4 separate regions of the Homo sapiens genome follow, and regions 1, 2 and 3 are each linked to region 4. The links come from fine-mapping of genetic effects on gene expression. A gene starts in region 4. Each other region holds a variant in brackets. All regions are shown on one strand. Distances are between the middles of the regions.

The links. PIP is the estimated chance that this variant, and not a neighbour inherited with it, causes the effect.
Region 1: its variant is the best candidate, but not a certain one, in a credible set for the expression of PGM1 in whole blood (TOPMed, PIP 0.87).
Region 2: its variant is the best candidate, but not a certain one, in a credible set for the expression of PGM1 in whole blood (INTERVAL, PIP 0.75).
Region 3: its variant is the best candidate, but not a certain one, in a credible set for the expression of PGM1 in whole blood (INTERVAL, PIP 0.51).

What each region holds. Positions count from the first base shown.
Region 1 is chr1:63,658,486-63,666,683 of GRCh38, reverse strand. It overlaps PGM1 (phosphoglucomutase 1), which reads right to left. Exons shown (of 11, transcript NM_002633.3): 11 at 6,439-7,098. The coding sequence ends at 7,009. Among named protein-coding and RNA genes, the nearest start is that of PGM1, 69 kb to the right of the region's middle. The variant A/T (reference allele first, on the strand shown) is at 4,046.
Region 2 is chr1:63,431,741-63,439,938 of GRCh38, reverse strand. It overlaps ALG6 (ALG6 alpha-1,3-glucosyltransferase), which reads right to left. Exons shown (of 15, transcript NM_013339.4): 15 at 1,386-3,116. The coding sequence ends at 2,919. Among named protein-coding and RNA genes, the nearest start is that of ALG6, 68 kb to the right of the region's middle. The variant G/C (reference allele first, on the strand shown) is at 3,086.
Region 3 is chr1:63,372,318-63,380,515 of GRCh38, reverse strand. The region is part of intron 2 of ALG6 (ALG6 alpha-1,3-glucosyltransferase); the gene reads right to left. Among named protein-coding and RNA genes, the nearest start is that of ALG6, 8.8 kb to the right of the region's middle. The variant C/T (reference allele first, on the strand shown) is at 3,215.
Region 4 is chr1:63,588,550-63,596,747 of GRCh38, reverse strand. It overlaps PGM1 (phosphoglucomutase 1), which reads right to left and starts at 3,337. Exons shown (of 11, transcript NM_002633.3): 1 at 3,014-3,337. The coding sequence starts at 3,259. RefSeq lists enhancers at 2,301-2,360, 3,061-3,350 and a silencer at 2,721-3,020.

The sequences.
Region 1 (8,198 bases), 70 kb before region 4:
TAAAAATTCTGATCCCCAAATGCTTGGGGAGACTGATTTGAGTAATAATAAAACTCTGATCTCCCACACAGAGAGCTCTGTAAGAAATTACTCTTTCTCTATTGCAATTCCTCTGTCTTGAGAAATTGGCTCTGTCTAGGCAGTGGCAAACTGAACCCATTGGGCAGTTACAGAAACATGGACAGTGAAGACCATTCTAATAAGATTTCAGATAGAAATGAAGAACATGTTATGGGACAGTGGAGGAAAGACCATGCTTCTTATAAAGTGGCAAGGAAGTTGGCTGAATTATGTTCATATTCTAGTGTTTTGTAGAAGGTCATGCTTGTGAGCAATGAAATTGGATATTTGACTGAAGAAATTCCAAGCAATGTATAAAATGTGCTGTTTGGCTTCTCTTGAGTGCTTATAGTGAAATGTGCGAAGACAGAAACGATTTAAAGTTAATGAAACTGTTAACCAAAAGGGAACCAGAGCCTAAAAATTTCGAAAATTCTCAGCCTATCCATATTAGAAAAAATCAGAAAGCTTGTTTGAGAGAGAACATGAAGGGTGTGGCCAAGTTTGATAAGGAAGTTAGTTCAGAGGGGCCATCTCAATCAAAGCTAGAAGCTATTCATCCAGACAATGGGGAGATTAGACTCCCGTCTAAACAGAAGCCAGGACCTATTGTGCAAGACAATGGAATAACCCCGAAGGCATTTTGGAGATCATCAAGGCTGCCCCCTCACTTCACAGGTCCAGACTGCAAGGGACTGGGGGAACAGAACAATTTCAAGGCTCTGCTCTTTGCCAAGCTCTTTGGCTGCCCCAAGTTCAGCTCTAGTGAATTCAAGTGCATAGTGGTACTCTGTAGCTGCTCCTCCTCCAGAGGGCACAGAGAGTAAACTTTGGGAGTGTCCACAAGATGCCACCTTCACCAGCACATAGAGTATACAAGCCAAGGAGGCATTATTCCCTCCATCAAGATTTCAAAGGATGGAACTACCCAGAGCCTCAGGTGTGTGACCCAGGCAGAGGGCTGCCAAGAGGGCTGGGCCACTGCAGAGTCCCTACTAGGTCAATGTCTAGTAGAGCTGCTGTCAGACCAGTAGAACCGCCTATATGTGATTCCAGCCTGGGAGAACTGTAGGCACTTGACTAAAACCCACGAGAGCTGTAGCATGGGCTGTACCCAGCAAAGCCACGGAAGTAGGGCCATCTGGAGCCTGAGGTCCCAATCCCTGCCCCAGCATGTCCAGCAGGTTGGATGGCAAACCAAAGATTATTCTCAGTCTTAAGATTTAACATTGTTGGCCAGGTTAGGTTTCAGACCTGGGTCCTGAGACCTGTTACCCCTCTTCTTTCCTGTATCTCCCTTTTACAATGGGAATGTCTATACTATGCCTATCCTACCACTGTATTTTGAAAACACATAACATGTTTGATTTCATAGGTTTACAGCTGGAGAGTAAATTTGCCCCAGGATGAGTTGCACCTTAAGCCTCACCCATATCTGATTTAGCTGATATTTAGAAAAGACTCTGGACTTCAGACTTTTGAGTTGATGACAGAATAAATTAAGACTTTTGAGGCTAATGGGTTGGAATGAGTATATTATGCATGTAAGAAGAACATGAAATTTGGGGACCCAGGACCAAAGCCTACGGTCTGAATGTTTGTGTCCTCCCAAGATTCATGTTGAAATCTAAATCCCCAAGGTGATGGCAGTGGGTGATGGGCCTCTGGAAGGTGATTAGGTCATGAGGGTGGGGCCCTCATGAAGGAGATTAGTGTCTTTATAAAAGAGGCCTGAGAGAGACCTGTTGCCCCGTCCACCATGGGAGGACACAGCAAGAAGGCACCATGTATGAGCTAGAAAGTGGGCCCCTACCAGACACTGAATCTGCTGGTGCCTTGATCTTGGACTTCCCAGCCTTCAGCACTGTAAGAAATTTCTATTGTTTACAAAACCACCAGCTTACAGTATTTTGTTATAGCAGCCCAAACAGACAAAGATACCAGATAAGGCCTCAGACATTGTGGAGCAGAGACAAGCTTGTATCTCCACTGTGCCCTGACTGGCTTCTTGACCCGCAGAGTCTGTGAGCATCATAAAATCATGCAAAAGTTTAATACCATTAGATTTTGGGGTACTTTGTTATACAGCAAAGGTTGAACAGAAAAAAAAAAAAATCCAAACATCCAAGGGTGATTGGAGGTGGCTGGTCTGCTTTCTCCTTCATCATTAGTGGGACTCTGCACAAATCACATAAACTCTCACAACTTCCATTGCTTTATCTGGGATAATAATAGCACTCCTACCATCATGTAAAAATGAAGTCAGAAACCAATGAAGATGAAGCTTTTATGAAATGACACCGTCATGAGAAGCAAAGAGATTGCTACTCGTAACTAGCCTTTCTGTTAATTGGAGAGCTGCACTCAATAAGACATGCTTTCTGGAAAATAGTTATTAACCCACACCCACAATGACAACTTACTGGATGGAGGTGGAGCTTTCATATTTGGTGAAAACCAAACCAAAGCCCTCCACGGTTTCCATAGGACGATCAGACAGACATGAGACATGCTCCCGCCAGTGACCTCACTTGTTTTGGATAATGACACACTTGTGGGAATGCTTCTTGTTCTGATAATGGGAACTGAGAAGAGCCTCTCAGACTTCCAGAAATAGATGCTCAGAGGAGGATCCCCATGCCAGCATGACGCCCAGTGCCAGGGTACCCACTTTACCCATCATGGGTTCCTTTCCGTGAATCTGCTCAGAGGGGGGCTTTGGGGATTGAGGCTGGTTTTATTGATTCTGTTCCTTAAAGCACTCATTTCTGTATTCAGTAGAACTCTTCCCCAACTATACCTCCCAATTAATTTTGTAGCAGTGGGAGATAAAATGTGTTTTATCATTTAAATTAAACATTTTCTTCAAAGTGACCATGACACATAACTCCCATCTATTGCCAGTACCCTCCTGCCCGCCTCTCCTGGGTGCTTTCTCACTTGCAGCCTCTAACACTTTTTGAAAGAGTTCTTGGTTAACCAGTGACTAGCATGGAAGTTGCTCAAATCACTTGTCACCTGTAAAATTGAGACAATCCTGCCTTATAGGTCAGGGAGATTCCAGCATAATGAAACATTCTGCCGTGCAACTAGTAGATTTCATTCACTCATTCTGAAAATATTTAATGGGGCTTTTGCTATGTGCCAGACACAGGCCTAGATCCTGGGTAAACACTGGTGAAAAAGGCAGTCTCTGCCATGTAGGAGTTCCCAGGGCAGTAGAAGAAATGGAAAGTAAACAGGTTATGAACATAGAATGGGATAAGCGCCTCGAAGGGGGAAATAGAGGTGATAGGAACACCAGAAAAAGCTCCCAAACCAGACACTGGAGGCTCAGAAAGCACTTCTTGGAGGAAACGATGTTTAAATTGAGACCTGAGGAACAAGTAGGAGTTGGGAGAATATGGCGGATGGTGGAATGGAGGGGAAAGGTGGAGAATGTAGTGGAGGGTGGGATGGAGGGTAAAGGTGATTCAGGTGGAAAGAAGAGCAGCTTCCAAGGCCTGGGGGCAGGAGGGAGGTGCCATGGTTCCCCAAGACTGAAGCTTGGAATGTAAGGCTGTGAGTAGGGGGAGAGGAGCGGGAAGTGACAGGCAGGTGAGTCACACGGACCTGGAGGCTACACAAAGGCCTCTGCACTTCAACATTTGAAAGAGTACTTAGCTGGTGGTGTGGAGAATGGATCAGAAGGGGCAAGTGGGAAGGCCAGAAGGCCATGGGGTGCCCCCGCCAAAGCCCACAGGCCATGCAGTGAGTCCTGCATGAAGGCTGTTATACTCATATCCAACCCCCTCTGCTGGGGGGGTTCAGAACGCAGAAACACAAGGGGGGCACCTCTTACTCATGGTAATATGTTTTCTGGAGAATTCTTATAAGCAAGGCCAGCTTCTAATGAGTCAACAAGAAACGTTGAAGAAAGCAGCATGGCAGAGGAGGCAGAGGGACCCTGTCCTCAAGCCTGGCCTTGAAGGGCCAAGGAGATGAC[A/T]CTCCCCAGAACCACAGTGAGCTTGGCCTCTGCTTTCACTCCCTATGAGGCAGAGCCCAGCCACTGGAAGCCTGGCCACTGTGTAGGCCTGGGGCACATCGCTGAACAGGAAACTGCTTCTCTGAGAGAATAGCTGAATGTCAAGAGGGAGAGAAAAAGTGAAATTTCAGAATTGGGCCCCAAACAGTTCCAACCCAATTTTCTCACTGTAATTCTCACCACACCCCAAAGAAAACAAGCCTGACTCACAGACCACATCAACGCTGGAAGGCGGGGAAGCCTGGCTGGGTGCTGCTGCCCGCCTCTCAGGACTCCTCTCCCGCACTCCCTGGGGCACACACACTGCGGCATCTCTTTGGAAGCCCTGGAGAGACACAGTGATCCTTACTACCCACACCCACCTCCACTGCCCCATGGCTCCAGCCACCTCCTTCTTCCTCCCCTGAGCTTTTAACTTCCAAGCTGTTGCCAAGTGGAGGCAGGAAAAGCAGTTGAAATACGATCAGGGAGGAGGAAATTTTTGAAGCCATTCCAGGGGCCACAGAACTGGGAGTATCCGCAGCTGATTCAAGAGATGAGGAGGCAGAAAAGGGTCAGGAAACATGAACGATACTTAGGGTCAGAATTCCAGTTCCATCACACGGTAGCTGAGAACCTGGGGCAAATTAATGAGCTTCTGTTGAGCTTCAGTTGCCTCAACTGGAAAGCGAGAAGAATGATGTCTTGCTTCGAGGGTTACTGGAAAGCATCTAGCCCAACATCTGAGATAGAATAGGTGCTTGGAGAATATGTAGGTTTTACCTACACAACTCATAACATTTATCCCATACAGTTTCTACTTGTGCTAGATTCGATTCCCCTGGCAAGTCTTACAGGCAGCTTGATGGCATGGGCTCTGTGTTATACAGCTCTTCCTCCCAAGCACCTCACACTTAATGTGGATCAATACATATTTCCGGGCTGACTGATACATCCAGATATCCAGATCTCTGCAGGAGCTAATATAATGCCAAAATAACAGATTCTTTGGCATCCAGAGCACACAGTATCCCCCTTTAATGCGTAAAGCACAGGGGCATTTGCACACCTTTCTTCCACGTTAGGTGTAGCCTAGAAGTAGACAGTCCGTAGAAGAAATCTGAAGTGGTTTGAACCCTGTAGGGCTGGAGCTGCACTGTCTGGGAGCATCTACCACTCCCCAGCAGTGTGATCTTGGTTGAGTAACTGAACCTCATCTGTAAAATGGGAATATTCAGAGTACCTACCTCAGAGTTGTCAGGAAGATTTAAAGAATATATGGAAAGCGCTCAGAAAGAATATATGGAAAGTGCCTGGCAAGGGGTTAACGTTCCAGACAAACTCATCACCACCACCACCATCATTGTCATCATTGTCAAAGCATAGTTTTGTTTGCTGAGCTGGCAACAATGGAAATCTTACCCCAGATAAAGATCCTGCCACCTGTATCAGGGAGTCCATACTGAGTAGGGGAGGGGTACAGAGCTGGGCTGACTTTTTAGAATAGCCCATATGGCAAGGTGACTTTGTGAAAGTACCTTGGAAATGTAAAATGTGTTACAAATATTAGTGTTACAGTTTTTGTTTTTCCTGTATATACAGTACTTTAAAATCTAAAAATGGTATCATAAACATAATTCTAGTTTTCACTTATTTAACAATGTACCATGCACTAGATACTGTGCTCACTGCTTTACACAAATGTACTCACTTAAGGTACTCAACAATTCATAAAGGTAGAACTACTTTCATCCCCACTTTAAGGATAGGGTAATGATATTCAAAAGTCACTCAGGGTCTCAAGTGGGATTCAAACTTGGGTCTGTTGGCTCTCAAGTCTACGCTTATTTAACTATAATATACTCATGGATGGAATATAAGTGTTCTGAGCTGAATAAGATGCCAGTGGGCTCAGATTTTTGGCCAAATGTCAGTAACCCTGCTCTCAGATTCTGAGGGTTCTGCCTCCATCCCTTCAATAAGCGTCAAGGCATCTCCGCACTGCAGAGCACGTACCAGTGCTTTGCTATTTAAGCACTAGGAAGAGGAAAATCACTCTTCCTTTCCCTTGTTCCAAGTTAACCATGTCAAGCTTGATTTGTCTACCTTGGAAGAATCCAGAGCTCAGTTGACCCTGCTAAGATTTTAAATTACAATTCTCTTAAAATTTATGTTACTTTTTAGAATATTCAGGACAATAAAAAAAATTACAGTTCTTGAGTCTAAGGATTTGCAACCTAGCCTAGAGACCATTTCATTTTCTGACTAGGACATGAAAACAAAATACAATACTCCCCTCCTTCTAAAAAAAAAATTGTTTTTCTTTCTAAAATCAAAAAAGTACTTTGCAGTTAAGAAAAAAAGACGACAAGCAATTGTAGCTTATTTTCCTTTATTATCCCAAAATATCTGTGTGAATGGGACAATGTCGCAAAACAAGGCAGAAATCTGTAGCCAAGTACGTCTCACTCAGAGGAAAGAACTGATTGGACAGAAGGCACTAGAAATTGCATTTTGTTGGGTTACATGTAAACAGGAAATGGGGGGAAAGATTCACAAAAGAGAAAGGAACTTGCACCATCATTTCATTGCCACATCCTAAGGATGAAGAATGGCCTCACTCACTGCTGATGCTCCACCTATAGCTTACATTGTAGTGTAAACTGTACCTGATGGCTAAGGAGACAAATACCCACGCAGCAGCAATGCAGGAGGGCATGAAAAGGAATTGAGATTGATCTAAGCCCGCAGGTCCTCTTTCCCTCACAGCTCCCAAGGGCATCTTGTTTGGCAGTGCCTTGTAAATGCACTGCTCGTCAACTGGTTAGTGAAAAAGTCAAATCCTAAAATGCTTGGTGAATACATTTTGTTTCTGTCATGCTCTTCAATCAGATGACTTGGATGGGTCCGGGGGTGGAGGGACGTACCACATCAGGCCTGTCTTCTTAGGTGATGACAGTGGGTGCAGTGCGTCCCGTCCTCTCCTGCAGCTGGGACACTTTCAGAGCAATGGAAATAAGGGGGGCCAACATGACCTGAGGAAGACATAGAGAGAAGCTTTTCCATCACTTCCTCTAAACACAGATGCTTAGCTCCAAACCCGTACGTCTGACTGCCTACTTCCAGGTCTCCAAGGCTCCTCAAACTCCACAAATCCAAAAACAAACACATGTTATTTCCCCCAATACCTAGTTCCAGCAGTTTCTATTTCAGTGGATCAACACTACAGTCTTTCATGTAAAGTGAACAACTAGGAGTTGCTCCTGACATCTTCCTCTGCATTTTCCCCATGCCCAGTCCATGAGCAGGCCTCAATGACTTTTCCCCGCTAAATCTCTCTCCATGGCCCCCTTTTCTCTCCACTCTCCTGCTGTTAAGTCTTGCTAAGTCAATGTCCTGTCTCTTACCTGGAGCAGTGAGTGCCTCCACATCCACTTGTGCATCTTCCAATTTCTTTCCCACACTGTTCCCAATGGGACTGATGTGGTTTGGCTCTGTGTCCCCACTCAAATCTCATCTTGTAGCTCCCATAATTCCCAAGTGTTGTGGGAGGGACCCGGTGGGAGATGATTGAATCATGGGGGTGGGTCTTTTCTGTGCTGTTCTCATGATAGTGAATGGGTCTCATGAGATCTAATGGTTTTAAAAACAGGAGTTTCCCTGCACAATTTCTCTCTTTTGCCTGCTGCCATTCATGTAAGACATGACTTGCTCTTTCTTGCCTTCCACCATGATTGTGAGGCTTCCCCAGCCACGTGAAGTGTAAGTCCAATTAAACCTCTTTCTTTTGTAAATTGCCCAGTCTCAGGTATGTCTTTATCAGCAGTGTGAAAACAGACTAATACAGGAATCTTTTTTTTTTTTTTTTGAGATGGAGTTTCACTCTTGTTGCCCAGGCTGGAGTGCAATGCTGCGATCTTGGCTCACCACAATCTCTGGCTCCCAGGTTCAAGCAATTCTCCTGCCTCAGCCTCTCTAGTGACTGGGATTACAGGCATGCGCCACCACGCCCGGCTAATTTTGTATTTTTAGTAGAGATGGGGTTTCTCCATGTTGGTCAGGCTGGTCTTGAACTCCCGACCTCAGGTGATCTGCCTGCCTTGGCCTCCCAAAGTGTTGGGATTACAGGCGTGAG
Region 2 (8,198 bases), 160 kb after region 4:
CTTTTTAAAATGAAAGGTTTTTAAAAACTGTTACTATAAATTATATAAATTACCTTCATTAATTATGTTCTTCATACTGTTTAAGAAATTTATTCTGATACAGTGCTTATAATAGGATGTTACCAAAAATATACTAAAAAAGGATTATTATAGCATTGAAAACTAACCTTAGGTTATAAGCCAAAACATTTTATAAAGTAATCTATGTTAGTCAGGTAATACAGAGTTAAGAAGTAGATTGGTTTCATATATAATTCAAGTTATATAGGTATGTGCTTAATGCTATTAAACCAGTTACTGTATGTTTGACCTCTTGATATACTAAGCTTTTGCCTTTTAGAACAGCTGGGTCTGCTGAGAATCATTTCCCAGTTCTTTTCATTGTAGATCAGATGACTCTCACTTTATCACCCTTGGAGGCCACATGAAGGACAAAGCAGAAAGATCCACACACACAACTAATGTTTATATGAGGGGAGGGGGAGTTGCAGGGGATATACTTGCCCTGATCTTCCAATGAACATAACAGAAGAGAGACCAATTGAGACTTGAAACCATTGCGTTACTTTAACCATTATTTAGTTATATCCTATCCATCTCTTTCTCTCTGTTGAACAGAGAGGTTCCTTTGGCTGCCCTGACTTTTGTAAATGTTTCACTCAATTTGTTGTGGTTTATCATTTGGACAGAATGCTACATTGGGGATTTTTCGCCCCCACTAAGTCCTCAAGGGAAAATGACTTCTGTATGCCTCATATATGATACATGAACATACACCCTATTCTCTTCATTTTAAGAAGCAAACCTAAGTTTTTTGGCAGCTGAGAAAACTGCATTTCTCAGAAATACCTCCTCCATCTAAAACGTACTTGAACATAACTTTGAAGGGCTTATTTTTTGACAGGTATATTAATGAAGAAAGTGAGGAATCTATCTTTAATATTTTTGCATAACCTATATGTATTTATATGAAAACATCCCTATAGCCCTGAGTTTAGCTAAGAGAAATGCTTTGGACCTTGCCTACTTCTGTGATAATTCATCACTGGATATTTTTGATATTTTGCTTTTTTTTGAGATGGTGTCTCACTGGTCTCAAGCGATCATCCTGTGTCAGCCTCTCAAATACAGACCGCTGTGCCTGGCCTCTGTTTCTGGTATTTTGTTTTGGTATTTTGGAACCTAATCCCTCTAAGTTCAATATAAACTCTTAAACCGGTTTTTAATAGATACGAGGGATACTTATAAGATAACTGCTACAAGTCTCTATAAAAACTATAGTGCAACTCAGTATGATTAGATTAAATCATCTGAAAAATGATTTAAGAATTTACCTATATGGTACCTTACAGAATTTACCTAGATGATACCTTGAATCAGGTGCATTTCATTTTACTAATATATGTACATAATACTTTTATTTCCAAATAATAAAGTTATGCTACTCCAATTATTTATAACTTCCTCATCATTTATCTAAGTCAACATTCTATGTTAAACACAAGTGTACTATTACAAAAAATATTTTTAAAAATAAAGCTACACCAGCCAGCCAAGATGCTGACATTTGGGCACAGTGATTACAGATGGTGACCATGGACAGCAATGTTCTTGCTGATTCGGCAGTGATTCAAGGCTGCTATTCTGCGTTGACCTGCCCTTTGAGTCTTTATGCACATTTGCTTTGAGAAAGAAACCTTTCTAGATTTTTGCTTTGTCTAAACCCACTTCCTTTACCAGACTTAGAAACACATACCTTCTTATATCAGCCTGTGACTGTCCGTGTCTAGAACCAGTTTTTTTTTGTATGTGGTTTGATTTGCACTATATTAAAATATACCACCACTTAATATAGTTTAATGGCTATCTTATGAAAGAAGAAATATATTCCTTAAAAAATGTTGATGGGAAAATGATTATCTTTATTACAGAGGCTAAAGAAAACATATCTTTATATGAGAAACTGCAACATGGATATCATGTATTATTTTTACCAGTTGAATACTATAATAAATATTGGCTTCTGCTAATACAGGGTGATACAGTATTAATAGGATGAAGTTAACATGAATCAATGCTCTGGCAGTGGTAACCCTGAACCATGTCAATAATAATATATATATAATATAATGTTTAATTAAACAGAATGGTTCTGGAAGTTTAGAACCAGTGATTATGTGTAATTTAGAAGACTTCACTCAAACCACTTAAAGTTAAGTTAAAGCTTACATTTAAATTCAGGAAAATTCATTTTTAATTGTATTAAAATATGCATTCTTGGAAATAAATAAGATTATGGTTTATTTGCCTTGTTAAAACAATCAAATTTGCATGTGTAATAAGGCATATTCAAACTTCAAGCAGTTTAAATTGCCTTCTCAGTAATTAAAAAGATTATCACAAATTTAATTCCCTAAGATATGACTTCTAAACAGTGAAATACACACTACTTGCATTCTAAAATGTAAGTTTGAATACCAAAATTAGTGATTTCCATTAAAAAGAAGGGGCTCAATTCTCCCATGAAGCTCACTATATGGTCTGATGAAGGAAGTAGGTTTAGACAAAGCAAATATCAAGAAATATTTCTCAGTTTTTTAAAGACATTTAAAAAGTGCATTTCCTGAGTAAACAATGGGATTAAGGACATGTTTCTCTTTTTTCCCCACTTGAATAGCTGTGAATAATAAAACCACATGTTTTGGCCAAGCAGTACTTAGACAAGCCTCCATTGGTCTTTGGTCTCCATATACATTTATTTTGTGTAGACAACAATGACTTTTCACCATTTCCTTTCCTGTGGTTCCATGGTTCTCAAAATGGTAATTTCATTTATACATAGCAAAAAGTTCACAAAACCTTTCAGCACTGTTCACATTTTCACATTTGTTTAGGAAACAATTTGTTTAGGAATACAGCTAGCTGATTTTCTTCTGATTTCTTCCACTTTTGGAATCCCACATAATAATAATGTTAAAGTATACCAAGAAGAACAGGAAGTTCAAGCAAGATACAAAACACACCAATACAGAAAACAAGTCCGGTAGTTTCTGAGGAGGATCCAGTGTGACAGTCATCAACGTCA[G/C]AAGCACCATAGTGATGACTGAGATAAGAAACTGCAAGGAAAAAAAGGATTACTGAGTAGTATAAAAGGTGAAATTTAAATGTGCTGGAAACATTGACTTGTAGCTATTAAATGAGCAGAATTAAAGGTGAGGGTTGAGGGTCTAATTTATTCTGGTGTATCTCAACTTTGACTTCCTATTAGAATCATATGAGGAGTTTTTAAAATCTCAATGCCCACATCACACCCCAGACCAATTAAATCAGGCCTCAGTACTTTTTAAAGCTCTCCAAGTGATTCCCATGTGTAGCCAAAACCTGAGGACCCCTGTCTTCTTATACTTCCTACCACCAAGGCACTGAACAAAGGTATCTGGGACAAATATTAATGCTAGTCAGGGTTAAATTTATAACATCCCCTGGGGTCCAACAGGATATAAAATTCTAAGCTAATGGGTACAAATGTATAGGTAGCTAGAAGAAATAAAACCTAGTGTTTGGCAGGTCAGTAGGCTGAATATAGTTAACATTAATGTACATTTTAAAATAGCTAGAAAATAATAAGTTGAATGTTCCTAGCATAAAGACATATTTTTAAGGTAATAAATAGCCCAGTTACCCCGATTTGATCTTCATGCATTACATGAATGAATAAATGAATCAAATTATCACATATACCCCCAAAATATATACATCTATTCTGTATCAATTTTTAAAATTCTAAGCTAACCTTGAGAACCCATCTGTGAAAAAGTTTTCCATGGCAAATGGAAAATTACATTTCATATTCGCTAAATGCTTTCAATGAGTAAAGCACACGAAGGCACATGAAAGAAAATGAGGTCCTCTGGCCTCAAAGAGTTTTCCATCTACTGAGGGGAATGTTAAATAAAATCACAAAGTCACACTGGCTTAAATACCAAGCTGAGTAGTAAAAATAATTAGCACATTTATTGTAGTTGTGTGGTCATCAGTTAGTGTGGTCTTCTCTAGGCCAATGTGCTATACAATAGAACTTCCTGCAGTAATGAAAATGTTTTGTCTGCACTCCAGTATAGTAGCTGCTAACCACATGTGGCTATTGGGCATTTGAAATGTACTTACTGTGACTGAGGAACAGAATTTTTATTTAAATTTAATAAGTTTAAATTTATATATATGTCTAGTGGCTACCGTACTGGACAGACTGTGACTCTAGACTGTGAGCTCCTTTAAGACAAAGACCAGCAAGATCTTACTCATTTTATCCCTAGCACAGTACACAGGTATACAAAAGCAGTATAAATAAATGTAGAAAGCAGTGAGAAACAGTAGTGACTTCCATGAAGTGGGTGGGACACAGAACCCTAAAGGATGCCTTAACTGCTGGCTACATTATGACAGTATTGGTAAGATCTAAATAGAGAGTAATGCAGTGATCATTCCAAATGGAAAAGCGAGGATAGGCGCCAAGAAAGCTTACAAGCAGATACAAACAAAGGCTGCCAGTGTCGTTAAAGGAAAAATTCCTGAGGCAACCTTAGTGGGAAGTGCAAACATCTGGAATGAAATCTTTAAAATAAAAGTTTCAAACTTAAGAAATATGGGACTGGTTGAAATGTCATAATACCACGATCTTGAGTCAGTGTTAAACAGAACAAAAACCCTCTCTTGCTCCAACTATTACCCCATTTGTCTGCTCCTATTTACACTTGTTTCCCAAAACAGTTGCCTATAAACATGCTGTGTCCAGTCTTCATCCCATTCACTAGTGAACCCATACCAATTGGGCTTTCACCCTAATCACGATGAAACTGCTATAGTCAAACATCCATAATGACCTCCAGTGTAGTAAATCCCATGGTCAGTTCTTACTGCCTTACTTGATTCTCTCATTAGCATTTGAAATCACTCTCCTCTCACTGAAACACTTCGTTCACTTGGCTTCCATGACATCATACTCTTCTGGTTCTCCTATCTCACCCAGTTAATTCTTAGACATCTTTGCTGGTTCCTCATGTCCCCTACGTCTGCATTCTGGGGCTTCGTACCTATTCCTCTTATTAATCTATACTCATACCCTTAGTGAGTCATCCAGTAATATGACTTTAATTACCAACTATATGTAAAGACTCAACTTCGTCTCCAGCCTGGCCCTTTCCCCTAAACCAGGGTTGTCCAATCTTTTGGCTTCCCTGGGCCACACTGGAAAAAGAAGAATTATCTTGGGCCACACATAAAATACACCAACACTAACGATAGCTGATGAGTTTTTAAAAATATCGCAAAAAAACTCCAGGTTTTAAGAAGTTTATGAATTTGTATTGCACTGCATTCAAAGCCAGCTTCAGTTGCAGATTGGACAAGCTTGCGCTAAACTCTGGACTCATATATCCAGGTACTTCTTAATATCTCTACTTGGATATCTAATAGGTATCTAAAACTAAACATGTAAAAAACTCTTGGTCTCCTCATACTCCCGACTGCCCCCACCACACACAAAGTTCCTTCAACATGCTTCCTCCAATTCGGTAAATGGCAACCCCACCCATTCAGTTATGTATGCCAAAAACCTTGGAGTCATCTTGAACACCTCTCTTTCACAACCCCAGCAATTCCTGTTGGCTCTACCTTCAAAATATATAAAAAATCTGACCATTTCTAACCACTTCCACTGCTACCCTGGTCCACAGCACCATCATCTCATGGATTCCATTATCCACAATCTGTTCTCCACATAGCTACCATAGGGACCTTTTAAAAATGTAAGTCAGATTCTAGTCCCATTATAAGAAACTACACTGTTACCTCTCTAATCTTAGGTCCTATTATTTCTTTCCCTCACCCAGCTCCAATCACTATGACCTCCATGATGTTCACTGCATTTGCAGTTTTTCTCTTCTAGGATGTTCTACCCTCAATTATCTGCAGTTTACTTCCTTTGGTTCTTTGCTCAAGAAAGCCCTGCCACTTTAAAATTGCATTCATCCCTCCTGCATATCATATCGATTTCTCCCTTGCTTTGTTGTTCTCCATAGCACTTATCACCCTCTGACATGCCATATATTTTACATATGCTGGTGCTGGATTTCTCCACTAGAATGCAACCTCCATGGGAGCAGGGATTTCTGTTAGTTTTGGTCACTACCGTATCCTCAGCCTCCAGAACAATGCTTGCATATAGTAAGTGCTCAAAAACTATTAAAGAACAAATAAATCTGGGAGCCCATAGCGGTCCTCACCTTAAGATTACTGGACCAGATTGTGAATATCACAATAGGGCTAGATTTTGACATACACTCAGGAATCTGGGCCTATACTAACAAAAAATGAACTTTATATCTACTTTCCATTTGAACCCCTGAGTAAAGTTAATCCTCTCCTTGTCTTTCCTGTTCACCTCTTAACTTCCTACCTCCCACACCACTATCCTCCATGGTCATTACCTAAAGTGCAAAACCCTCAGGACACCCATTCAACTCTGCCCTGAGAATACCTGCCTTGTCTTCCTACAAGATCTAAATATAAAATATCTCCTTTGAAACCTTCCCCTACACTCCCCTAATAGAGTTAGTCATTCTTTTCTCTTTGTTATCTGGGTACTTTGGGCAATCCTCTATGTAGTACTCAAAAATATAAATAAGTATAGCCTGTTGGGCTGGGCGCGGTAGCTCACGCCTGTAATCCCAGCACTTTGGGAGGCTGAGGCGGGTGGATCACGAGGTCAGGAGTTCGAGACCAGCCTGGCCAATATGGTGAAACCCCGTCTCTATTAAAAATACAAAAATTGGCAGGGTGTGGTGGCACGTGCCTGTAGTCCCAGCTACTCAGGAGGCTGAGGCAGAAGAATTGCATAAACCCAGGAGGTTGAGGTTGCAGTGAGCCAAGTTCGTGCCATTGCACTCCAGCCTGGGCAACAAGAGTGAAACTCCATCTCAAAAAGAATAAAATAAAAAATAAAAATTAGGCAAGCATGATGGTGCATGCCTATAATCCTAGCTACTCAGGAGGCTGAGGAAGGAGGATCACTTGGGCCCAGGAGTTCCAGGTTGCAGTGAGTTAAAAATGCACCACCGCACTCCCGCCTAGGCAACAGAGTGAGATCCTGTCTCAACAACAACAACTTCATAACATTTGTAGTAGTTGTCAAATATTCCGTGGAGCTTATATACTTATTCATGTATCATTTTTCAACTACTGGATAATTGAGCTGCCTCTAATTTTTCATTATAATAATTAGATGAATATTCATTCATTCAACAAACAAAAATCAGAGCACCTATTCTTTGTGAGGCACTGATAGATGCTACAGATAAAATGGCATGTATAAAATGCAGAGTTCTTGACCTCAAATACATTGCAATCTAGCATTTTAGCCTTGAATGTAATGTGATATGCCTTAAATATATGAACTTTATGAGTAGACAAAGACGTCACATGAAAACTACATGTTAGTGTCTCTTATGAATATAAATGCAAAAATCATCAACAGAATACTGTCAAACTGAAGCCAGTGGCAGATAAAAAGAATTATACACCATGATCCAGTAGGATTTATCCTAGGAATTCAAGGTTAGTGTAACATACAAAAATCAATCAATGAAATATGTCATATAATAGAATAAAAGAAAAAAAACACACATGACCAAAGATGCAGAAAAAGAATTAGACAGAATCCAGCATTTTTTCATGAGAAAAACATGTAAACTAGGAATTGAAGAGAACTTCCTCAACCAGATAAAAGACATCTATTTTAAAAAGCCCACAGTTAACATCATAGTTAATGGTGACAGACCAGATGCTTTCCCTCTAATATCAAGTAAAAGAGAAGATGTCCACTCTTGTTACCTGTATTCAACACTGTCTTATAGGTCCTAGGGCAATTAGGCAAGTAAGAGAAATAAAAGATAAAAGTCATCCACATTAGAAAGGAAGAAGTAAAACTCATGGTTTGCAGATTACATTATCTTGTATATTGAAAACTGTAGGAAATCCATTAAAAACCTATGCCGAAGAATACAAGTTGAATATACAAAAATATATTTGTATATAGTAGCAATGAACATTATGAAAATGAAATTAAGAAAACAATTCCTTTACAATAGCATCATAAAGAATTATGCTTTAGGATCATTCGTTATACTTAAGAATAAATT
Region 3 (8,198 bases), 220 kb after region 4:
CCATGAATTAGTACCAAATTCAGAAAAGGGGATGACTTTCCAATGGACCAATTATGGACTAAAAGTAATATTATAAGTTACATATTTTATGTAACAACTTCTAATTGGACCTTTCCTCAGCCCTTCTTCCCCCACTTCAGCCACCAAACTACTTCCTTTCTTCCGTTCACGAACAAACGTCCTGAAAGTTGCTATGTCCATTTGATAACTACCATTCAGTCCTCAGTTCATTACAGTCTGGCAACCAGGAGGTTCACATGGTCTCCTATAGATCCCTTGTCTATTTTAAATTTTCATCCTTTTTGACATGTCTATAGCTTGACACTGTTGGCCGGTCCTCATTTTGTAAAGTTGTCTGGTTTCTTGGCTTCTAGAAAAACAAACTCTCCAGATGCTAAGCCTACTACACAGTTTCTTCTCAGTCTCCTTTAATCATTCTCCCTTCTCTCTGGAGATGATTAGTGGTTAAATCTGTTTTCTTCTTGCACAAAAGTTGCTTTTGTTGAGGGGCAAAAGCAACTCTTAAACCTGTTGCTTTTGCCCCTCAACCCCTGGCTTCAACCATCATGTCTATTAACCCTCTGTAAACACTAGAATAACTTATGGAGCTTTTAAAAATATAGATGGCACTTCGGTTTCCAGCAATATGCCAGACAAAGGGTCCAAAAACATCTCCAGTAAAAATCCTAGTTAACATTGAATAAATAATGTATATAATATAATGTTTTATATATGTTTTATATATAATGTATGATTTATATTTGTTTTTATATAATTAATAATATAGTATTACGTATCCTACTTTTATAAATATATAATTTTAATATATGGCTGAACTAGCAGTAACATGAAAGAATTCCTTAGAGGCCCCAGAAACAACAGCAAAGTGTAGATTCAGAGAAGTAAGCATTTGCCTTGAGGGTATCCAATGATCTCTGGTGGTCAATAGCCTGGCTACCAGGAGCCCTGTGCAGTCAGTAAGGAGGCAAAGCCTGGGACCTGAACAGGTAGGAATTCAAGGTCAGAGAACCCTCTACTACAATTTAAAATACAATGCCTTTAGGGAGATAGTGAAGATAGTACTCATCTCGGCCTTGGCTCCTGGTAGTACAGGAAAAACGAAAAAGAGTCCTATGAAAACTCCTAACCATATGCCTGCATTTGCCCAGGTTGGGGCCTGAATTCACACCAAGTACATGACCCAAAGAAACTTTAAGTTGCTAATTTAGTTTGATTTTTGTTAATAGTGCCCCAGGTGCCTACCAGGAAGCAACATAAACCCTATGTGGAAAAATGCACAGGAAACTCAAGCCTCAAAGAATTCCCACAGATAAAAGTTCCAAATTACATAAACTCACTATTTTATTAAAAATCACTAAGCTCATGAAGAAACAAAATACCATGAGCAAGGGTCAGGAGAAACAAAAAACTATGAAATCAGAATGCAGATACGAGAATTTTTAGATAAGAAACATAAAATAAGCATGGTTCAACTGCTTAACAATACAAAAGAAGACCTTGAAAGTATGCTGAAGGAACAAGAGACTATCAGAAATGATCAAGATCTAAAAAGGAACCAAAGAGAACTTCTGGAAATAAAAAATATAATAACTGAAACCTTAACATTCAATGGGGAGTTAAAAAAAAAAAACAAACAAATTAAGCACAGCTAAAAACTAATGAACAGGAAACCAAATTTGATGATTATAAAGGAAGCACTGTGAAGAAACCCCGAGATGGAAAATACAAGAGATTATGAAACACAGAAGACAGAATGAAAAGACCCAACATACATCTAACAAGAGTTGTACAAGAATAAAAATGAGGAAGATACAATATTTGAAGAGATAACTGAGAACTATAAAGTCAATGAGGGGAAGAGATTATTGTCTATTTTATTCTCTGCAGCATCACCAGCCCTTGGCACATAGTGAATGGCCTATACTATCTGTGGAATTCCTAACCAAAGATCCAACATATATCTAATCAGAGTTCTAAAAGGAAGAAAAATAAGAAGACACAGTAGCTGAAAAGTTTCTAGAACAGACAGAAAATACCATTCCTTAGAGACAGAAATCACAGAAAATCCTAGGATGACAAATGTTTTAATATTCACTAAGATATATCATAGTGAAACTGCAGCAAGAAAGGAAAGGCAAATTACCTACAAAAGAATAACAGTTAAAATGACAGCTGATGTCCAAACATCAACACAAATTAAAAGACAATGGTATTTTCAAAATACTAAGAGAAAACAACCATCAAAACAATTCCATACCCAGCAAAACTTTAAGACTGAAAGCCAAATAAAGGCATTTTCAGACAAAAACTGGGTTTGCCACCAACAGACTCTCACCAAAAAAAACTCCCAAAGGTGTACTTCAGGAAGAAAAAAATGATCTCAAAGAAAGATACAATATGTAAGAAGGGTGAACAGAAAATGCTAAACACAAGGGTAAAACTAAATAAATATGCAGGGCACAGTGGCTCACAACCTGTCATCCCAGCACTTCGGGAGGCCAAGGTGGGAGGATCCCCCTTGAGCCCAGGAGTTTGAGCCCAGCTTGGGCAACACAGCAGGACCTTATGTCTACTAAAAATAAAAAAACATATATTTAGCTGGGTGTGGTGGCAAGCACCTGTAGTTCCAGCTACTGGGGAGGCTGGAGCAGGAGGATCCTCTGAGCCCAGGAAGTCAAGGCTGCAATGAACTATGGTCATGCCACTGTACTTGAGCTTGGGCAATAGAGTGAGATCCCATCTCTAAAAATAAATAAATAATAAATAATAAACCAATATTAACTGTACAAAACAAGTCATTAATGCCTAATTTATAGGATTAAAAATCATGGAAGAAACAAAATCCTAGACAGTAACATTTTAACTTGGGAAGTGAGGATCTGTAACCAGAATTAAAACATTCTAAAGTCTTTGCATTGTTCAAGAGGATATAAATATTAACTTTAGGCTTTGTTAAGTTAAATATGCAACTGAAAATTTCCAGATAAGTCCTGAAAGAAGAAAATAAAAATATAGCTTTCAAACCAATAGAGAAGGGAAACAGCAATTGCGGAAGGAAATTGCTTAGACATATCTAAACATACAGTAAAGAATAAAAGGACAGAAAAAGATATAACAAGCAAAAATCAAACTAAAGAAAACTATTATGGCTATATTAATTTTAGAGGAAACAAACTTTAACAAAAAAGCATTA[C/T]TGTAAACAAACAGGGAAGCAACAGTGATATGAAATTCAGGTCACACACAAAAAAATTCTACCTGTTAATACCACCACTTTGGGAGGCCGAGGTGGTGGATCACCTGAGATCAGGAGTTCAAGACCAGCCTGGCCAACATGGTGAAACCCCGTCTCTACTAAAAATGCAAAAATTAGCTGGGTGTGGCAGCGCACGCCTGTAATCCCAGCCACTAGGGAGGCTGAGGCAGGAGAATCCCTTGAACCCGGGAGGCAGAGGTTGCAGTAAGCTGAGATTGTGCCGTCCAGCCTGGGCAACAGAGTGAGATTCCATCTCAAAAAAAAAAGAAAAACAATTCTAAATCACCTAGTAATATAGATACAAAATATATACATACAAGTTGACAAAACTACAAAGAGAAACTACAGCTCTCTTAATAACTGGTAGATCAATTGGTAAAATATCAGTAAGAATATAAAAAACGATTGTATCAAAACAATAATATTGGGTTATTGAATATATGCAGAATATTAAACTAGAGATTACACATTCTTTTCAAGCACACACAGAACATTTACAAAAGCTGATTACATACTAGGTCAAGTTTCAATGCTTTTCAAAGAATTAGTAGTACACAGAAAGATTCTCTTTCTACCATCTACTTAAATTTAAAATATCAAAAAGGTAATTTTTAAAGCCTAAATATTTAAAAAATTTTAAACATAATTCTAAATAACTCATGGGTCAAAGTAGATGTCACATTAGAAATTAGAAAATATTACTTGTGGGATGGTACTCTAAAGAAAATGTATAGCTTAAATGATAGTGTTACAGAGACTGAAACTTAAGAGCTAAAGCATCCAATTTAGTAAATTTAAAAAAGAACAACCCCAAGGATATCACTGAGAGAATGGGCAAAGCTCAGATTAGTTATTTGAAAAATACGGCTATGTACCACAATAATGACATCTCAGTCAACAACGAACTGTATAAACAATGATGGTCCCATAAGATAATCATACTGTATTTTAACTGCACCTTATCTATGTTTAGATATGTTTAAATACACAAATACTTACCATGTGCTACAACTGCCTACAGTATTCAGTACAGTAACATGTTGTATAGGTTTGTAGCCTAGGAGCAATAGGCTATAATGTACAGCCTAGGTGTAGTAGGCTGTACAATCTGAGTTGGTGTAAGTCACTCTACAATGGTTGAACAATGACTAAACTGCCAATTGACGCATTTCTCAGAATGAATCCCCATCATTAAACAATGCATGACTGTACTAATAAAATTAATAAACCCCTAATAAGACTGATTGTTTTAAAAAATGAAACACCACTAACTATATAAGAAATAAAAAAGGAACTATAATCATTGATACAGCAGAAAATGTAAAAGGTAAGAAAACATTATGAATAATTTTATGTCAATACATTTTAAAACTTAGGTGAAATGGAAACATTTCTAGAAAAATATAAATTACAAAAATAATTCGAGAAAAAAGAGAGAGCCTAAATGGTCCTATAACCAATAAACAAATTAAATCACTAAACATTTTCCTTACAAAGAAAATTCCAGGCCCAAATACCTTTACTATCAAGTTCTACCAAGTATCTAAGGAACAAACAATTCCAAGCTTACATACTATTCCAGATTTTACAAAAAGAGAGAATACTCCCTAATTCATTTTATGAGGCTAGCTTAACCTTGATATCAAACCTGACAAAGGCATTTTAAGGAAGTAAAAGAAATGGGCCAGGCGTGGTGGCTCACGCCTGTAATCCCAGCACTTTGGGAGGCCAAGGAGGGCGGATCACCTAAGGTCAGGAGTTTGAGACCAGGCTGGCAAACATGGGGAAATCCTGTCTCTACTGGAAAAAAAAAAAAAAAAAAAAAAAAAAATGCCGGGGGTGGTGGCACATGCCTGTAAATCCCAGCTACTCGGGAAGCTGAGGCAGGAGAATTGCTTGAACCCAGGAAACGGATATTGTAGTGAGCCGAGATTGCACCATTGCCCTCCAGCCTGGGCAACAGAGCAAGACTCAGTCTAGGGAGAAAAAAGAAAAAGAAAAGAAACAAAGTATTTGCCTATATCACACTACATTTTTTTTTTAATGGAGTCTCCCTCTGTCACCCAGGCTGAAGTGCAGTGGCACCATCTCTGGCTCACTGCAACCTCCGCCTCCCGGGTTCAAGCAATCCACCCACCTCAGAGGCCCGAGTAGCTAGGACTACAGGCATGTGCCATCATGCCTAATTTTTCTTTTTGTAAAGGGGGTTTCACCATGTTGGCTAGGCTGGTCTGGAACTCCTGACCTCAAGTGATCCCCCTGCCTCAGCCTCCCAAAGCGCTAGAATTACAAGCATGAGCCACTGTGCTCAGCCTACATTTTTATGTAGTATGTATTTACATGTCCACCTTATCCACTAGACTGTAAACTTCTCTAAGGAAGATACCATTTATTATTCTTGGTCACCCTAAAGACCAGGCCTAAAGACTTAATCACCAGCAAGACCTATTTTTCCTGCATAGCAGACATTTTAGGGCTAAATGATCTGATGTGAGGATCAAATGAGATGAGTTATGAACTATAAATGTGCTAGTTATAGCCCTGCACTATTAAAAAAGAAAACATAATTTATACATATTATCTCAATCCTCACAAGAATCCTTTTTTTTTTTTGGAGACAGAGTCTTGCTCTGTCACCCAGGGTGGGGTGCAGTGGCGTGATCTCGGCTCACTGCAACCTCTGCCTTCCAGGTTCAAGCAATTCTCGTGCCTCATCCTCCGGAATAGCTGGGACTACAGGCACCCGCCACCACACCCGGCTAATTTTTGTATTTTTAGTAGAGACGGGGTTTCACTGTGTTGGCCACGCTGGTCTCGAACTCCTGACCTCATGTGATCGGCCCACTTCGGCCTCCCAAAGTGCTGGGATTACAGGCGTGAGCCACGGCCCGGCCAAGAACCCTCTTAAAGTATGTATTAATACCCCACTTGATAGAAGAGGCTCAAGGAGATTAAATAAATTCCCCAAGATCAGGCAACTAACAGGTGAAAGAGCTAAGATTTGAGCCCAAGTCAACTGCTACATTTAAGTGATTTTACTTCCTCCATATTCCTCGAACTCATTCAGAAGCCACAGAGCACAGTCATAAGAGCACTGATTGTGGAATTAAATACAACTATATTTGAATCCCAGTTGTCATTTATTGGTTGTCTCATTTTCCATTTGTAAATCGAAGATATTACCTGTCTTCAGTGGTTGTGGTAAATACTAAAGAAAATACTCATACTCAAAATATAGTAGTTCTTACAAGTTCTTTCTATAAATCCTTTAAATTCATGCTGAATAAAGAGAAACTATATTAAGCCAGAGTATTTGAAAAAATTGGGCGCAGTGGCTCACACCTATAATCCCAGTACTTTGGGAGGCTGAGGCAGGAGTATTGCTCGAGCCCAGGAGTTCAAGACCAGCCTAGGCAACACAGTGAGACCTCATCTTTACTAAAAATCAAAACAATTAGCCAGACAATTAGCCACATGCCTGTGGTCCCAAGAGGTCAAGGCTGCAGTGAGCCAAGATCATGCCACTGCACTCCAGCCTGGGCAACAGGGGGAGACCCTGTCTCAAAAAAAAAAAAAAAAAAAATGTAAATTAAATTAAATTGAAAAATAAAAATAGCCCAAAAAAGTGTGTTGTTTTGTTTTTTTTTGAGGCAGAGTCTTGCTCTGTCGCCCAGGCTAAAGTGTAATGGGATGATCTTGGCTCACTGCAACCTCCATCTCCTGGGCTTAAGCAATTCTCGTGCCTCAGCCTCCCCAGCAGCTGGGATTACAGGTGTGCGCCCGGCTAATTTTTGTATTTTTAATAGAGACGGGGTTTTGCCATGTTGCTCAGGCTGGTCTTGAACTCCTGAGCTCAGGCAATCCACCCACCTTAGCCTCCCCCCAAAAAAAAATGTTTTAAGAGAAAAGAGAAACTATAGTCTGGTTAAAATATTGACTGGACATAGTGGCTCACACCTGTAATCCCAGCACTTTGGGAGGCTGGGGCAGGCAGATCACTTGAGCTCAGGAGTTCAAGACCAGCCTGGGCAACATGGTGAGACCCTGTGTCTACAAAAAATACAAAAATTAGCCAGGCGTCGTGGTGCACGCCTGTATTTCCAGCTACTTGGTAGGCTGAGGCAGCAGAATCACTGCACCAAGGAGGCGGAGGCTGCCATGAGCCAACATTGTGCCACTGCACTTTAGCCTGGACGATGAAAGTGAAACCCTGTCTCCAAAAAAAAAAGTCTTACAAAACATATATGTATGTGTGTGTGTATACATCTATATGTAAGAGCTACAGGCCAGGCACGGTGGCTCATGCCTGTAATCCCAGCACTTCAGGAGGCCGAGGCAGGCAGATCACGAGGTCAGGAGTTCAAGACCAGCCTGACCAACATGGTGAAACCTCGTCTCTACTAAAAATACAAAAATTAGCTGGGCATGATGGCATGCACCTGTAATCCCAGCTACTTAGGAGGCTGAGGCAGGAGAATAGCTTGAAACTGGGAGGCGGAGATTACAGTGAGCCAAGATTGCGCCACTGCACTCCAGCCTGGGTGACAGAGCTTTTTTTTCTCAAAAAAAAGCTACGATATACACAGACACATACACATTTATTCTCTACATACACATTTGCTATATACACACATATATACAGATATTTATATATATGTGTGTCTGTGTATATCCATATATATGTCTGTGTATATATACATTTACTATATACAGACACACACATATATAGGTATGCATAAAATACCTATATATGTGTGTGTCTGTGTATATACACATTTACTATATAGACACACATATATATAAATTTCCATATATGTATCTTCGTATATAGTAAATGTGTAAGTAGAGAGTAAATGTGTGTCTGTGTATATATATGTGTCTGTGTATATATCATAGCTCTTACAACTATTAATATTATTGTCTC
Region 4 (8,198 bases):
AATTATCTATGGGAAAGGAGCACTTAATAGGTGGAGAAGAGTGGTAGGGATGGGGTGTCAAGAAAGGTTTCTGAAGATGCCATCTGGACTGAATCATATCACAAGAGAAAGAGTAGCATATTTAAATCCCGAGTGAGTAGAGAGAGTGAACAAAATCAGAGAACAACCTGAGCGTAGAAACCTAGGGAATAGGCCAGGCGCAGTGGCTCACGCCTGTAATCCCAGCACCTTGGGAGGCCGAGGAGGGTGGATCACCTGAGATCAGAAGTTCGAGACCAGCCTGGCCAAGATGGTGAAACCTCATCTCTACTAAAAATATAAAAATTAGCCAGGTGTGGTGGTGCATGCCTGTCATCCCAGCTACTCAGGAGGCTAAGGCAGGCGAATTGCTTGAACCTGGGAGGCAGAGGTTGCAGTGAGCTGATTGCGCCACTGCACTCCAGCCTAGGCGACAGAGTAAGACTCCGTCTCAAAAAAAAAAAAAAAAAAAAAAGAAGAAGAAAAAAGAAAGAAAGAAAGAAGAAAGAAACCTAGGGGATAGTCAATGTGCAGCCCATGAAGGAACTTCCAAAAAGTGTGAGTAGAATCAGGAGAGTAAGCAAGGCCAAGGGAGGAAGAACTTTACAAGAGTACAAAATCAGCACTGCCAAATGCAGCAGAAAGGCCAAATAAGATTAGACCAGAGTGTATTCCATGAATTTAGCAACTGGCAAGTCCCTAGTAACTTTGGCAAGAGCAATTCTACTGGAGTAGTGGAGGGGGCAGAAGCAGTGAAATGGCGAGTAAACCGGAGGTGAGAATGAGAAATAGTGAATGCAGAAAGCTTTTACAAAGGTTGGCTGAGAGAAGAGCAATAGGGCAATGGCTAAAGGGTGATGAAGTTTTAAGAACTTTTTTTTTTAGTCTTAACTAATTCTTTCCTTCCCACCCCACACTACTCCCAAATGGACAAATTTCCATCTGGGCACCTAAAATTCCCACTCTGCTGTAAGCTCCTTAAGGACAACTCTTGGGTCTGCATCATCCTTTTAGTCCACACATTTCTCTGAACATGGTATTCAACAGGATCTGTTGAATGACTGACTGAATAAATGAATGAATGAATGAAATGCAAATTCAGCACAGGTGGTAACAGGGAAATGATCTACTGGGATACAGCTATTGTCTGTTCTTCTTTCATGGGAATTTGCGCTTGTCTGAAAATTCAGGACCACAAAGTAAACAAATCCAGGCAATCTTCTCTCACTGATGCTTATAAATGTTTGGCCCAGGAAGGCAGATGTAGATAGAGCCCAGTTTAGATTTTGGAGCCTGGAAAACAGATCTTCAAGATCAAGGGCTGTTCATTCTTCATTCTCAGGAGCTGTTCAAGTTCTTGGGATTGGCAGATCTATATTGGACTCTTAGTGCTGCCATTATAGTTTTTGTAAATTATTTAACCTACCTAAGCTTCAGCGTCCTCGTTGGCAACTTGAAGATACCCATAATAGCATCTACCTTATAGGGCTGCAGGAGGATAAATGAGACCCAGAAATGAAGCGCTTACCATAGTGCTTGGCAAATAGTACTCAATGTCAACAAAATAAGATAAATAAAGTACTATTAAAATGAATAAAAATATCCATTTCAGGGGATGCGTTCCAGAAGAATTGGGCATAAGTCAAATCTCACTTAAAATATAGAAAGAAAACTTGGTCCTCAGAACTCCTTAGAAATGTTTTACAAAAGTAAGTGAATAATTAGCCCCAACTTATCAATCCACTTTTTTTTTCTTTTTTTTTTTTTTTGAGACGGAGTCTCGCTCTGTCGCCGAGGCTAGAGTGCAGTGGCGGGATCTCAGCTCACTGCAAGCTCCGCCTCCCGGGTTCACGCCATTCTCCTGCCTCAGCCTCCCGAGTAGCTGAGACTACAGGCGCCCGCCACCACGCCTGGCTAATTTTTTTTTTTTTTTTTTTTTTTGTATTTTTTAGTAGAGACGTGGTTTCACCGTGTTAGCCAGAATGGTCTCGATCTCCTGACCTCAGGTGATCCACCACCCTCAGCCTCCCAAAGTGCTGGGATTACAGGCGTGAGCCACCATGCCCGGCCCCACATTTCCATATATCAGATTTACTGAAAAACTTTTTTTTTTTAATTTCCCCTATCCGAGTGGACCCGCCCAATCAAGTCAGTTAACTTTCCTTGGCCGGGGGCGGAACCAAGGTGTTGCGGTAATTTCCTGGCCTGCCACGACTGCTTGCTTGCGTAAGGGCGTCTTTGGGTATGTTGCCATTCTAATGAAAATTCAGCTCCAGCCCCGTCGGTGGAACAGATCCCGGGCACCACTGGGCAGAGACTAGATGTTTCAAACGCCTGCCCCCCAGCAAGCAGGCCGCGCAAAGGGCAGGAGTTCGGAACCAAGGCAAACTAGGGGGCGGGGAGAAAAGATTGGCACCCGCCTGCTGAGATCTGCCAACCTGACGCCCCAGGGGGATGGGTGCTCTCGCCACCCTTGCCCCACAGTGTCGGGCTCCGAGCCAGCGGGAAGCGCCAGTCCTAGCCGAGAATAGCAGAGGAGCGGGCGGGATGCGAGGGGGCTCTGGGCGAGGCGGCGGCAGTCTAACCTTTCCTGCTTAAGGCGACAGCACTCTGCGCCGTAATCGTATCTTCCAAGGCTGCAAGGTTAGGGCAAATGTCAGACGCCTCGGGAGGGGCGGGGGACGGGGAGAGGGAAGGCAGCGGCTAGAGACGGAGAGTCGGGCGTGACCTTGGGAGGCTCCGCGCCCGCACCTCCCGGCGCCCCGGGAGTCAGGCGAGCAGGTCTGCCGGGTCCCGTGGCCACTTTCCCCAGCCCGGCGACCTCCGTCGGGCCTCCAGGCCAGAAGAGCGAGCGCGAAGGAGAGGGAGGAGCGGGAGGTGGAAACCGAGGCGGCAGCGCGCGGAAGCGGCCGGCCCCGAGCGAGGGAGGGCGCCGCGGGCCGCACGTCGCACACGCGCCAGGGTGCACAGCGGCGCGGGGCCGCGCATCCCTTACCCCGTTGGCGGCAGCGATGCGAGCGATGAGCTGGATGGCCTCCTTCATGTAGAACCGGCCGTCCCCGCCCACCACCAGCGTGGCCTCCTGCCGCTGCGCCGGCTCCACGGTGGAGATGATACTCTGGATGAAGTTCTCCGCGTAGTTGGCGCTGCTCTGGAACACCTTCACCCGCTTCCGCAGCCCGCTCGTGCCCGGCTTCTGGTCCTGGTACGCCTGGGTCTTAACTGTCACGATCTTCACCATGGTGGCGACTTGCTGCCGGGGGTCAGAGCGGCGGACTTGGCTGGCGGAGGGGCGGCCGGCTGAGGCTGCAGCTGCTCTGGGGTGAGGGCACGGCGGGTGGGGGCTACGCCGCACTCTAGGCCGGCGTTTGGCCCTCCTCCTTAAAGGGACAGGGGACAGGGCCCTCCCTCCGCGCCAGCCCACCTCCTGGCAGGTCCGGCGGGAGGGGAAAGGGGAGCGCCGGTCTCTAGGCCTCCTGTGAAATGGGTGGAGCCTTACTGATTTACTCTCCCCTTCGGAATCCTATCCACTGTAAAAAGAGGCCCGCAACTCCTCCTCTAAGTGTTGGGGCAGAGGTTGGGGTAGGAACCCGGTCATAGGGCAAGGACGTGAGGCAGGGTGGAAAAAAGTACAGGGTAGAATGATTTCCAGTGGTTTGGCGAATGCATCGTGTGTAAATAGCTTTCTGGAAACCTGTTGGGAGGGTCAGAAGTGCCAGCCCCAGCTCGATTTCATGAGTCGTAATTCTTTCTATTTCTCCCTAAATGTGAGGGCATTTGAGTTCCGTAAAGGAGTCGACTCCAAATGTTTCCTGCTGCACCACACACTTGACTACCATTGGTGACGGTGACTTAGCTATGACTTGCTGAGTGTAGCGTTTCTAAACCTTACTAAACTCTGGGTTTTATTTTTCCCCTTTTTATGCTTACAAAACTGAAATTCAAAGAATAAAATGCCTTGTCTCATTGCCACACAGCTAAGTCCATGCGGGAGGCCAATTCAGGTGGTCTGGCTCCAAAACCAGGGCTCTTCCCATGATTTGCCCGCTGTGACACCAGGTTGGCAACTAGGAAATGTACAAGCAGGACTTGACAAATGTAGGAGCAAATATATGGTAAGGATAAGTATGAACACCATCAAAATTAGCCAGTTACTCATGTAATAGAAATAAAGTGAGGAGATCAACAAACAAGGACTGACATGGCTGGAAAAGTTTCACGGGGGATAGCAAGGTCAACCAAGGGGATTTGATTATTAAGTAGGAATCTTCAGTCTTTCTTGCTTTTCGGTTTAGTATCTCCCTTAATTTGATGAGAGTGATTGTCTCCTCTGTTCAAGAAACCTGTCATTTTGGTAAAGTGGCAAAAAACTTGGCTTTACAAGGTGTGTGCTCTTGGGAAAGTTAGTTAATGTCCGTGGGCATCAATTTCCTTACTGTAAAATAAACATATCACCTACTTTGGAATATTTTTGCAAGATTTAATGGGGTTTTGTATGTCAGAAATTCTCAGTCATGGATACACAGTAGAATCCTACTGTGACCCATGCTCACAGTAGAATTACTTGAGGTGGTTTCTAAATGACCCAGTCCAAACAAATTCAATCATAATCAGCTGTTAGAAGTAAATCATCTAGCCTGGTGCCTGAAACATAGAGGCCTTCAAAAATATTAGCTCCCCTTCCCCAATTCCAAAACCAGAGCATATCATTCACCTGTGAATTATATTCTTTTGGTAGTTAATTGGTATGTCTTGATCAAGCAGGGAGGCGAACAGACCCATAAGAGTGCAGACTCTCACAAACCAAGTGTTGATATACATGCTCATATAGTACATGCTATGTAGATACAGTGTGTTGATGTAGTCACTATAGATGAGTTTCGGTGGCAAATATTATGTGAAAACGGAACCCTGGACTGCTAGTAATGAGTTCTAATATTTGCACAGGAGTTTACAGAGCAGTGTAATCTTGTGAATTAAATAATATAATCAAGCCCATTTTATAGACGAGAGAATTGAGGATTGGATGGTGAATGTAATCAAGGTTATCTAACTCCACAAAATGAAAATATAGCATAGATTCACTGAGCCTTCAAAATACCTACCTTAGAGTTGTATGGTTTAGATAGAGAATATACAGCTCCTACCACAGTGCTAATAAGTAAGTCATCAATAAATGATAACTTGTAAAGTCACGGGCCCAAATTCAGATCTCATGCCCTTTCTATATTCTTCAGTATCTTTGGAAATATGATGGAGCTTTTCATTTAAGAGGAATTGATCTATACTTCTCTCACCCCAGAAGTTGTAACAATTAGCTTTAACTGCATAACACACCAGTCTAAATCTGAGTGGCTTAAGACAACCCCCATTCATGATTATAGTTCATGATTCTATGAGTTAACTGGCAGTTCTGCTGTTCTGGACAGGGTTACTGTGGCCCCTTATACAGACCTAACATGATCCCCATGTTCCTTGCCTCCTGATAATCATGCCTTTATGCAATCCCCTTGTATTACAGATTGAGTATCCCTTATCCGAAATGTTTGGTACCAGAAATGTTTCAGATTTTAGATTGTTCCGGATTTTGGAATGTTTGCATTACAATGGTTGTGCATCCCAAATCCAAAAATCCCAAATTCAGAATGTTCCAATGAGCACTTCCTTTGAGTGTCATGTTGGCACTCAAAAAGTTTTGGATTTTGGAGCATTTTGGGTTTGGGATTTTTGGATTTGGGATACTCAACCCGTACTTTTCTACTGCTGTATGACAAATTACCACAAACTCAACAGCTGAAAACAACACCCATTTATGATGTCACAATTCTATAGATAAGAAGTCCCAATTCTATAGATCAAAAGGTTTGGCCAGGTTCAATCCTGGTAATCACGGATATATAACAGCTTATAAACATCAAGGAGAAAGTATTTTGACCTTCATTAAATTCTTTTTAAGGCAAGCATACCTGTTTAAACTGATTTGTCTATAGCCAGTTGGTTTAATTTCATTGAATTCTTCCCAGAGCCTCAAGATAAGAACCCACCCAAGCTTGGTGCGTTCTTATCTGGAGCCTCTGGGAAGAACACCTTGATTTGAAGTCAAGAGCCAAGCTGGCTTCTTATCTGGAGGCTCTGGGAAGAATTTCTTTCAAGTGTTAAAGATAAATAAAAATAGAGGCTCCAGTTTAGATATTTTAAGTCCAACCACCCATAGCCAGGTAGCCAAAACTTAAGTCATCCTTATTTCCCTGAAACACTTGCTCTAGACATAAACAAAACACAAAATGTCCTTGACAGTGTGAGTCAATGAAATTAAACCAATCAGCTATAGACAAATCAGCTTAACAGCTCTACTCGCCTTAAAAAGAATGTAACGAAGGTCAAAATACTTCTTCCTCAATGTTTATAAGCTGTACTGTAACTGCTGTGAGCTGGGCTTCTTGCCACTTTTGGTTAGATGTCTTCCAGTTTGTAAACTGTTCTTTGTATGCATGCTAAACTTTTAAAAATTTTTAAAGTTTGATCTGATTTTAACACAGCGCATTCAGATTGCTGGCAGGATCTATTTCCTTGCAGTTGTAGGATTGAGGTCCCCATTTCTTAGATTAGACCTACCTGGATAATCTCCCTTTGTAACGTGTTCATAGGAGTAATGTATCATCGTATTCACAGGTTCTACCCACGTTCAAAAATTGACTTGCAGAGATTTCCAAGTTGTAGTATTTATGAAAAGCAAGAGAAGGAGTCTTATTCCCCTGTGGGTAGCACTGAAATCGGGAAAGAAGCCATTGGAAATATACCAAGATATGCAACAATGATTACCACTGAGTTGCAAGATAGGGCAATGTTTATTTTCTTTATATTTTATCTGGATTTTCCAGGTTTTCTATAGGGAATTTGTATTATTTTTAAAATGATAAGTACATATTATGTATTTTCCTTTTCTTTGAAATACCTTTTAAGTGGTAATCCTTACTTTTTTTTTTTTTTTTTTTTTTTTGGAGACAGTCTCACTCCATCACCCAGGCTGGAGTGCAGTGGCACGATCTTGGCTCACTTCCACCTCCACCTCTGGGGTTCAAGCAATGCTCGTGTCTCAGCCTCCCAAGTAGTTGGAATTACAGGCACATGCCACTATGCCCAGCTAATTTTTGTATTTTTAGTAGAGATGGCGTTTCGCCATGTTGGCCATGCTGGTCTGGAACTCCTGACCTCAAGTGATCTGCCTTCCTCGGCCTCCCAAAGTGCTGCAATTACAGACATGAGCCGCCACACCCGGCCCTCATTATTTCATTAATGAATTATTCTTTACCATTTAGATGTATTCGTTCGTGTATTGATTCATTAACTCTATAAATATGTTTTGAACTTGTACTAAATGACAGCTCTTTGAAAGGTGTTTGATGAATAAGACAAAATAGTCTCGGCCGGGCGCGGTGGCTCACGCCTATAATCCTAGCACTTTGGGAGGCCAAGGTGGGCGGATCATGAGGTCAGGAGATCGAGATCATCCTGGCTAACAGGGTAAAAACCCATCTCTACTAAAAATACAAAAAATTAGCCAGGTGTCGTGGCAGGTGCCTGTAGTCCCAGCTACTCAGGAGGCTGAGGCAGGAGGATGGCGTGAACCCGGGAGGCGGATCTTGCAGTGAGCCAGGATCGCACCACTGCACTCCAGCCTGGGCAACAGAGCGAGACTCCGTCTCAAAAAAAAAAAAAAAGCAAAATAGTCTCTGGTCTCACAGATCTTGCAATATGTTGCAGGAGACAGATACTGAATAATAAATCATAATTGTGATAAGTGCAACAAAGAAGTATAGGTGCTGTTAGATTGTAAATAGAAGGATCTATCATTGGAGAGAGTCATGGACAATATCCTGGAGAAAGTGCTATGTAAGCTGAGGGATAAAACAATGAGTAATAGTACCTGGCCAGGTGAAAAGAGAGGAGGAGCATTTCATTCCAGAAAGAACGTTAAGGGAAGTTTAAAGTAAGAAGGAATCTAGTGTCATCAATAACTTGAAAAAAGACAGTTAGTGTAACTGGAGTATAAAAACCTCGGGGTGGAATGGTAGGTCTGATCATATTGGGCCTTGTAGGGGATGTCAGGTGTTGAGATCTTTATCATAACAGCAGTGAACAAACAAAAGCATTTTGTTTTCATTGTGGCAAGACATACG